Linked DNA regions of Homo sapiens. The protein of the gene in region 1 purifies or fractionates together with the protein of each later gene. This does not show direct contact. Each region holds a gene or a part of one and is shown on either strand. Other genes may lie near its edges.

The links.
Region 2: the proteins of AXDND1 (region 1) and UNC5CL purify together in Homo sapiens (affinity purification with mass spectrometry; one large-scale study listed by BioGRID and IntAct). This does not show direct contact.

What each region holds. Positions count from the first base shown.
Region 1 is NC_000001.11:179,364,299-179,368,896, reverse strand, and holds the start of AXDND1 (axonemal dynein light chain domain-containing protein 1), read right to left. Parts: upstream 2,916-4,598; 5' UTR 2,897-2,915; exon of another isoform or gene 2,552-2,896; intron 2,494-2,551; 5' UTR 2,388-2,493; coding exon 2,291-2,387; intron 98-2,290; coding exon 1-97. UniProt on the Homo sapiens protein: May be essential for spermiogenesis and male fertility probably by regulating the manchette dynamics, spermatid head shaping and sperm flagellum assembly.
Region 2 is NC_000006.12:41,026,165-41,029,301, reverse strand, and holds the end of UNC5CL (UNC5C-like protein), read left to right. Parts: intron 1-706; coding exon 707-929; 3' UTR 930-2,407; downstream 2,408-3,137.

The DNA.
Region 1 (4,598 bases):
AGAAGAACTTCTTTGGGAATGAACTCATTCTGAAGGGAAGTAGGAAGGAGTTTTGAACGATCCACCATATTTTTTTTCTCCTTTAGCTCAGGAAGTCCTAAGTAAGTAGTGGAAAAGAAAAACTCTTACTATATATTTTTTTAAGTTAGATGGAGCTTCTCAGACTGCCTCATCAATCCCATCTGTTTCTAACAGAGAGAAACATTGCTTCTATTTGACAAAGATAGTAACAAATAATATTGAAAACAGTGAACATCATCTAGTCAAGGAAAATAACATTCATCTTGCCTACCCTACTCACATTACATCAGACACAGTTTCAAAAACTCAGGTACCAAGATGAACCTGCATGATTCTCAATTCAAAGTTGAAAACTAAACTCATTTCACTTGCTCAGGTAACTGGGAGAGCCTTAAGAAGACAGGAATGAATGTCTATTTTCCCTTTCATATGAAAATCACAAATCTCTCCCCCCAAGCTGTCAAATTATTTAGTAATTTTTTTCTTACATGAATTCAAAGGTGAGAATAATTGCATTAAATCGAGGCATTTATAGAGTGGAAAGGCTCTGGGTTGGGCTTAAAAGTAAAGATGGAACTGGGATTGTTGCAAATGAGAGTGGAACAATCTGAGCTGACAAATCTGTGGAATGGGAACTGTAAAAAGAGTGTTCTACCCTGCTTGACTAGGGCAGGGGAGTAATAAAGGCAGGTAGTTGGGATAATGTAGGAAAAGCCCTCCTATGAAGTCAGTCAGGTAGGGTTGAGTTGTTATTCTTCTTAATCTATGCCTGTAACATGGTATGGTTTATGTTTATTTCTATAAGGAGGTATCATGCTTTGATTACTATCAAAAGTTGTTAGGGTTTACATTACCAAATCTCCTGAGAGCTTGAGATCAAAAGAAACAGAAGAAAAAAAAAAAAGTTGGGTGGGGCTTGGGGTTTTAGTACAAGGTGCAGGTGAGATGGGAAAAGCTTTAACAGAACCGGGTAAGGATAACACTAGCTGACTCTAGTACAGATCCGCATATGAACGAAAATCTTAAGGAATTGCTCTCATTTAGAAAAATTACTAAAAGCTAATACAAATTGGCACATTGTACTAAATTGAGTTTCTCTTATCTCTGCTATTACTTTTTGTTTCTTTATTTACTTATTTGAGACCAAGTCTACCTCTGTTGCCCAGGCTAGAGTGCAGTGGCAAGATCTTGGCTCACTGCAACCTCTGCCTCCCGGGTTCAAGTGATTCTCCTGCCTCAGCCTGCCGAGTAGCTGGGATTACAGGCGAGTGCCACCACACCAGGCTAAATTTTGTATTTTTAGTAGAGACCGGGTTTCACCACGTTGGTCAGGCTGGTCTCAAACTCCTGACCTCGTGATTTGAGACGGAGTCTCGTTCTGTCGCCAGGCTGGAGTGCAGTGGCGCAATCTCGGCTCACTGCAACCTCCACCTCCCGGGTTCAAGCGATTCTCCTGCCTCAGCCTCCTGAGTAGCTGGGACTACAGGCACGAGCCACCACGCCCCCCCTAATTTTTGTATTTTTAGTAGACAGAGTTTCTCCATGTTGGCCAGAATGGTCTCAATCTCTTGACCTCGTGATCCGCCAGCCTCAGCCTCCCAAATGGGATTACAGGTGTGAGCCACTGTGCCCGGCCTATTTATTTATTTATTTTGAGATGGGGTCTTGCTCTTGTCTCCCAGACTGGAATGCAATGGCTCGATCCTGGCTCACTGCAACCTCACCTCCTGGGTTCAAGCGATTCTCTTGCCTCAGCCTCCAGAGTAAGCTGGGACTACAGGCGCGAGCCACCATGCCCGGCTAATTTTTGTATTTCTAGTAGAGACGGGATTTCATCATATTTGGCCAGGCTGGTCTCGAACTCCTGACCTCAAGTGATCCGCCCACCTCGGCCTCCCAAAGTGCTGGGATTACAGGCGTGAGCCACCGCGCCCTGCCTCACTATTACTTTTTCCAAAGTTCCTTAAAGCCAAAGACCAGGAACCAAAAAATACGTAACTATTGATATTTAAAATAGGTTGAATTTAAAATCATATATAAATCAACATTTGAAAAAAAGTATAAACTGTATTTAGATGGAGTAGTGAAACAGTACTCTGACTCAAAATACTGTAAAAGGAATGACTTCTTGCTTTATTTAAGCAAGTGTGTTAGAAAAATGTAGCCAATCAAGGTATTCTGAATATCAGATTTAAAAAACCGGTGAATGGAAGGTGATTTCTGTCTTACGGCCATGACTGTTTATGACTTCAGAATCAACGAAGTTTACCTCTTGTCCCTTCCTTGGCTACAGACACTTTTAACTTTTTGCTCTCAGATGTTGATGTAGAGTTTAGCGGGGTGGAGGGCGTTTTCGGGAGAGACATAATAAACAATGCCTCCTATCTCTTTAGTAATTTGAAATAGTCCTCCGGAAAGCTAATTTAGACACAAATCAGCGCCGCACTGGGACTTGCAGGCTGCCACATAGTCCTGCAGGCAGAGGAAAAAAGATTTAAAAAAAAAAAAAAAGATGACAACTATTGAGTACTTAGGTTCAGATCGCAGTTTAGAATTCATCTAGCATGGTTCTCCTTCTTCGGGGCGACCTCTATGTTCTGGGGTTATGTGTAGCGACTAAGAAGCCTTAGTGGACCGTCAGGTCGGGGTCAAGGAGCAGGGCAGGAAGGACCCGCTCGGCGGACCCCGCAGACCGCCGGCACCCCTGGTGGGGGACACTCGCTGCAGGCGGCTCGGCTGGGGACCATACCTTCCCCACAGGCAGCGCTCTCGCGCGCCAGTTCCACAAACTCGCGAGTTGGGCAGGCCTCGCACTGCTTCTTGGTTTAAAATGACGGGAAAGGGACACCCGCGATCCTACCCACACATTGCGTACCCGCCCAGCATCCGCTCACTTCCTCCTTTGCTGGAACGCCTGTTTGTCGTCATAGAAACCCAGGGCCCCGAGGTTTAGCGCCCTCCATAGGGGCTGCCTTCAGCGGTGCCGGCGGAGGAGGGAGACAGCTAAGACAATCCCTACACCCTCTTGGAGTTTCTTATGTTCTAAGTCACAGCATAGGTTCAGTAGCAAAGGAGAAGAAAAACGTTTAATCCCGCCGTTGTCACGGAATCCGAAAGTGTCTCACGCCGGGGCTTCCTGCCGCGGGCCAGGCCAGTGCGCAGGCGCCGGTGGGGGTTAGCTCGAGGGGCCGACCCCTGTAGCCCGTGACGCACGCGGGTTAAGCAAGGGTCTTCTGAGTTGTTTCCATCTTTCTAGCTCTCTTTTTTGTTGCTTTGCATATTTTTCTTTCTCTTTCTTCCTCTTTTTCTTTCTTTCTCTTTTTTTCCCCTGAGACGGAATTTCCCTCTTGTCGCCCAGGCTGGAGTTTAATGGTGCGATCTCGGCTCACTGCAACCTCCACCTCCTGGGTTCAAGCAATTCTCCTGCCTCAGCCTCCCAAGCAGCTGGGACTACAGGCAGACGCCACCATGCCCGGCTAATTTTGTAGTTTGTTTTTTGTTTTGTTTTGTTTGAGACGGAGTCTCGTTCTGTCGCGCTGGCTGGAGTGCAATGGTGCGATCTCAGCTCACTGCCACCTCCGCCTCCCAGGTTCAAGCGATTCTCCTGCCTCAGCCTCCCGAGGGACTACAGGCGGGGGCCACCATGCCCGGCTAATTTTTGTATTTTTAGTAGAGACGGGGTTTCACCATATTGGCCAGGCTGGTCTCAAACTCCTGACCGCGCCCGCCTCGGCCTTCCAAAGTGCTGGGATCATAGGCGTGAGCCACTGCGCCCGGACGCTTTGCATATTTTTCTAAAAGCCAGACTCAGGGGGATGTTGGGTAATAAGAAACGCTGGGTCCCTTATTGGGTAAGCCGTCCAGTGCTTTACATTTCGGTCACGTCTTCCTTGGACCCTTAAATGCCTCCCCCCAGAGCACAAGGAAGGCCTCCTGGGCCCAGATTTTTCACCCCCTTGGGGCAGGGAAGGAGGATTGAGCTTAGGTGGAACCAGCTCAGGTATAATTGTCGGGGCTTCTGGCGTGAAAATCTGCCCTCAGGAAAGAATACCATCAGCGGCCGGTGGCTCACGCCTGTAATCCCAGCACTTTCTTAGGCCGAGGCGGGTGGATCACGAGGTCAGGAGTTCGAGACCAGCCTGACCAACATGGTGAAACCCCGTCTCTACTAAAAACACAAAAATTAGCCAAGAGAGGTGGCGCGCGCCTGTAATCCCAGCTACTCAGGAGGTTGAAGCAGGAGATTCGCTTGAACCGGGGAGGAAAGGGTTGCGGTGAGCCGAGATGGCGCCACCGCACTCCAGCCTGGGCAACAGAACGAGACTCCGTCTCAAAAAAAAAAAGAGTATCATCAGAGCCTTCGCACTGAACTGAGGCTCGGTTCGGTGAGGGATCATTTCTTTTCTTTTCTTTTTTGAGACGGAGTTTCACTCTTGTTGCCCAGGCTGGAGTGCAATGGCTCGATCTCGGCTCACCGCAACCTCCGCCTCCCAGGTTCAAGCGATTCTCCTGCCTCAGCCTCCCTAGTAGCTGGGATTACAGGCATGCGCCACCACGCCCAGCTAAATTTGTGTTTT
Region 2 (3,137 bases), on another chromosome or scaffold:
AGGGCTTCAGGGAGGAAGTGATGGGGAAGAGATCAGCCATTTTGTTTTGGGGAGTAGCAGAGGTGGCTGTGGGTGTAGTGTGTGCAAGGCGAGAAAGAGAGAGGCCTGAGCTAAGGGGGTTCAGGATGGGAGAAAGGAGAGAAAGCATAAAGACAGGGCAAGGCCAGGTGCTGGATGAGCCAGAAAGGCTCATGGAGCGTGGGCTGGTTAGGAGGTGAGAGACTCTGGAAGGTTTTAGTGGACGGGAGAGTCGTGATAAAAAGCCATGGTTTACAGCAACTGTTTCCTTAGTAGTGAGCAGGATGTTGTGGCCTAGGAGAGAGGGAGGAAGGAGGGAGTTAGGAGGCTAGGGGGAGGCTAGGGGTGTATTTGGAGTGGGGGAGGTAGAGAAGGCAATTACAGAACATCAGAACTGTAGCAAACTTAGAGGTCCTCTTGTCTAAGCCCTCATCTTAATAAGAGGAAACTGAAGCCTAGAGAGGAGTAGGGGTCAGAGTTGGCCTCCAAGCCAGGACAATCTCAAGTTTCAAAGCCCTGGGGCTTCCCACCTCCTGTGCCCTGGAAGGCAGGCAAGAGCAGGACAAGGACAAAAGCTACAGGATGGGGAAGGGACGGACCTTGCGCTGCGCAGCCCAGGGAGCCTGCAGCAGGGGGGGAGCCCCTCCCTGCTCCTACACCCTTCTCTTCCTCCCCTACCTCGGGCCAGGTTCCTGTCCTGCCAGCGCAGCCCCGCAGCGGCCATCCTGGAGTTGTTTGAGGAGCAGAACGGCAGCCTGCAGGAGCTGCACTACCTCATGACCGTCATGGAGCGGCTAGACTGCGCCTCCGCCATCCAGAACTACCTGAGTGGGACACACGGCGGCAGCCCAGGCCCCGAGCGCGGGGGCGCCCGGGATAACCAGGGCCTGGAGCTGGACGAGAAGCTCTGAGCGCCCAGCGGGCAGGGCCGGAGGAGGTGTAGGGGCGAGAGGGGTTGTTCTCCTACGCCTAAGAGGAACACAGCAGCTGTTCCTGGCTGTGCCCACCACCCTTCCCAGAACCCTCGGACGGTGCCAGGGCCGCCCGCGTCCTCGCCAGCCTCCCAGCAGCAGGCGCGCCCTTCCGGCCGCGAGCTGTCCCGCGTGCGGGTCCCCTCCTGGCCGGCAGAGGGCGCAGGAGCCCAGGAGATGGCCTCAGCGTGGCCAGCCTGCCAAACTGACCAGGGGACGGCCACGGTCCCCGCGTGCACTTTAGGGCCGGTCAGGCCCTAAAGTATTCACTGAGCACTTAGGAAGACCGGGCATTGGGCTGGTGTCATGAAGAATACTGGAATATAGGAGGTAGGGTCTGGAGCCCTGACAAGCACACAGTTCTTTTGCAGGAGTCAAGATGTGCTCATAGGAGCCAAGGGCAAACTCGAAAACAGCCCTGCCCTGTGGTTAGGGGAGGTGGGTGTGGCTTTAGGAGTTGAGAGGGGAAGAGCTGAGTGCGGGCTGGAGCAGCGAGAATGCTTCACGGAGGATGTTGGGGAGAGAGGATTTGATTTGCCGAGTGGTTTGGAGATCTTTAGGGGCGGGTAGGGGAAGAGGGTGGCTGGACTTAAGGTAGGAGCCGAAAGTGGGCATGGGAGCCCATCCCCGTGGGTGTGAGGCCGGGGTAGGACCAGGCTTCCCGGCTAGGCACGCCTGGCTGGCTGCCTCTGCCTCTACTAACTTCCTTTGTCTCTTTATCCTCCTGCTTAGGCCGTGTCTTCCTCTCTCTCTGCCATTTTCTCTATCAGAAAACATTAAAGCTGAGTAGAAACTTCAAGATGATCATTCTGGCCCAGCCCTTTTATCTCTTTATCTCCAATGGTGTGCGTTTTAAGTTTCTCTGACTTGGTTTTTCTGTCCCTGTCTCCCACAGTTGTTCCCGCTCTGCACCTGTGTTTCAGTTACTCTCTCTCTCTGTCTTAGATCTTTTTGTTTCTGCCTAGTCTCTGTGCCCTGTCTTTGTGTGTTTCTTTCTCTGCCTGAAACCCTCCCTCTTTTCCCTTCAGGCATATGTCTCTAAACCAATGTTATGTATCAAAGACTGTTGAAAGAGACAGGGCTACTCTAGGAATGGATGGGTGGGGATATTTTCCCCATGGATCAAGATCCAGTTTAGGGTTGGGAAATAAAGGATAGGGATAAAAGAGGCACCCCATTCAGTCAGCAGATACTTATTCAGCACCTACTATGTGTTTGATACTGTATACAAAAGACATGAATGGGCTGGGTCCTGAACAGAGAATAAAGGGTTTGACTCCATTCTGGAAATTCTTTTGTTTGCAAACAGGTGTTGTTAATTTGTTCAAAGGCAGGCAAACAATCTCTCTGGCAACACAATTTTCTTCTGTATTTAATTAAAAAATATTAAAGCTTTTTTTCTATGATGAATGATAAAATATGAAAATTGCCTTCCTTTGTTACTAACTATATTTTGCTCAGATTGGCAAATTTGGATGTGAGTATGAATGATTTTATTTGGTAAAATTGTACCTATGGGGATGGGTTGGAGGGAAGCATTTTGTAGATTGTGCTTCCAGTATGAAAATTACCTGGGTCCCGCATGGTAAGTCAGGGAGGTTCCCTTCCTTTTCTGTTAGATGCAAGCCTTCAGAAGCAGGCCTTTCCATCCCTTCCCTGTTCCCCTATCCCCACCAGTCCTCTCCTACCCTTCTCATCTGTCCTCCTTACCCCATCGGGTGCTGCCAGTCACGCCAGATTAGTGCCCCGGACTTTTCCCCCTTCACTTAGCTCAGGATTGAACTGTGCAGTAGCCCGGCACTGTTTAGCCAAAGACATCATTGTGTTCCTTCCTACCCTGGAAAAAATCATTTTAAGAGTTTCACATCTACTGGAGTTGCAAATAGAAGCCACACAGATTCCAGTGATGGGAATAGAATGCTTTCTGGCCCCAACTCCAATTTCTCAAAATGCGTTTCCAGTGCTGGCAAAGGGAGGCTTGGAAATCCTGGGGTAGATGCAGGCCAAGTGATTCCTATAAGGCAGACACTTCCTTTCTCACATCAAACCCATTTGGCATGTTATGTATTGGCACCTAATGCTGAGAGATGGTGTGCCCCAGTGAGCATCAGGAGACTTAACATTTAGCCCTGACTCATACTAACTAGA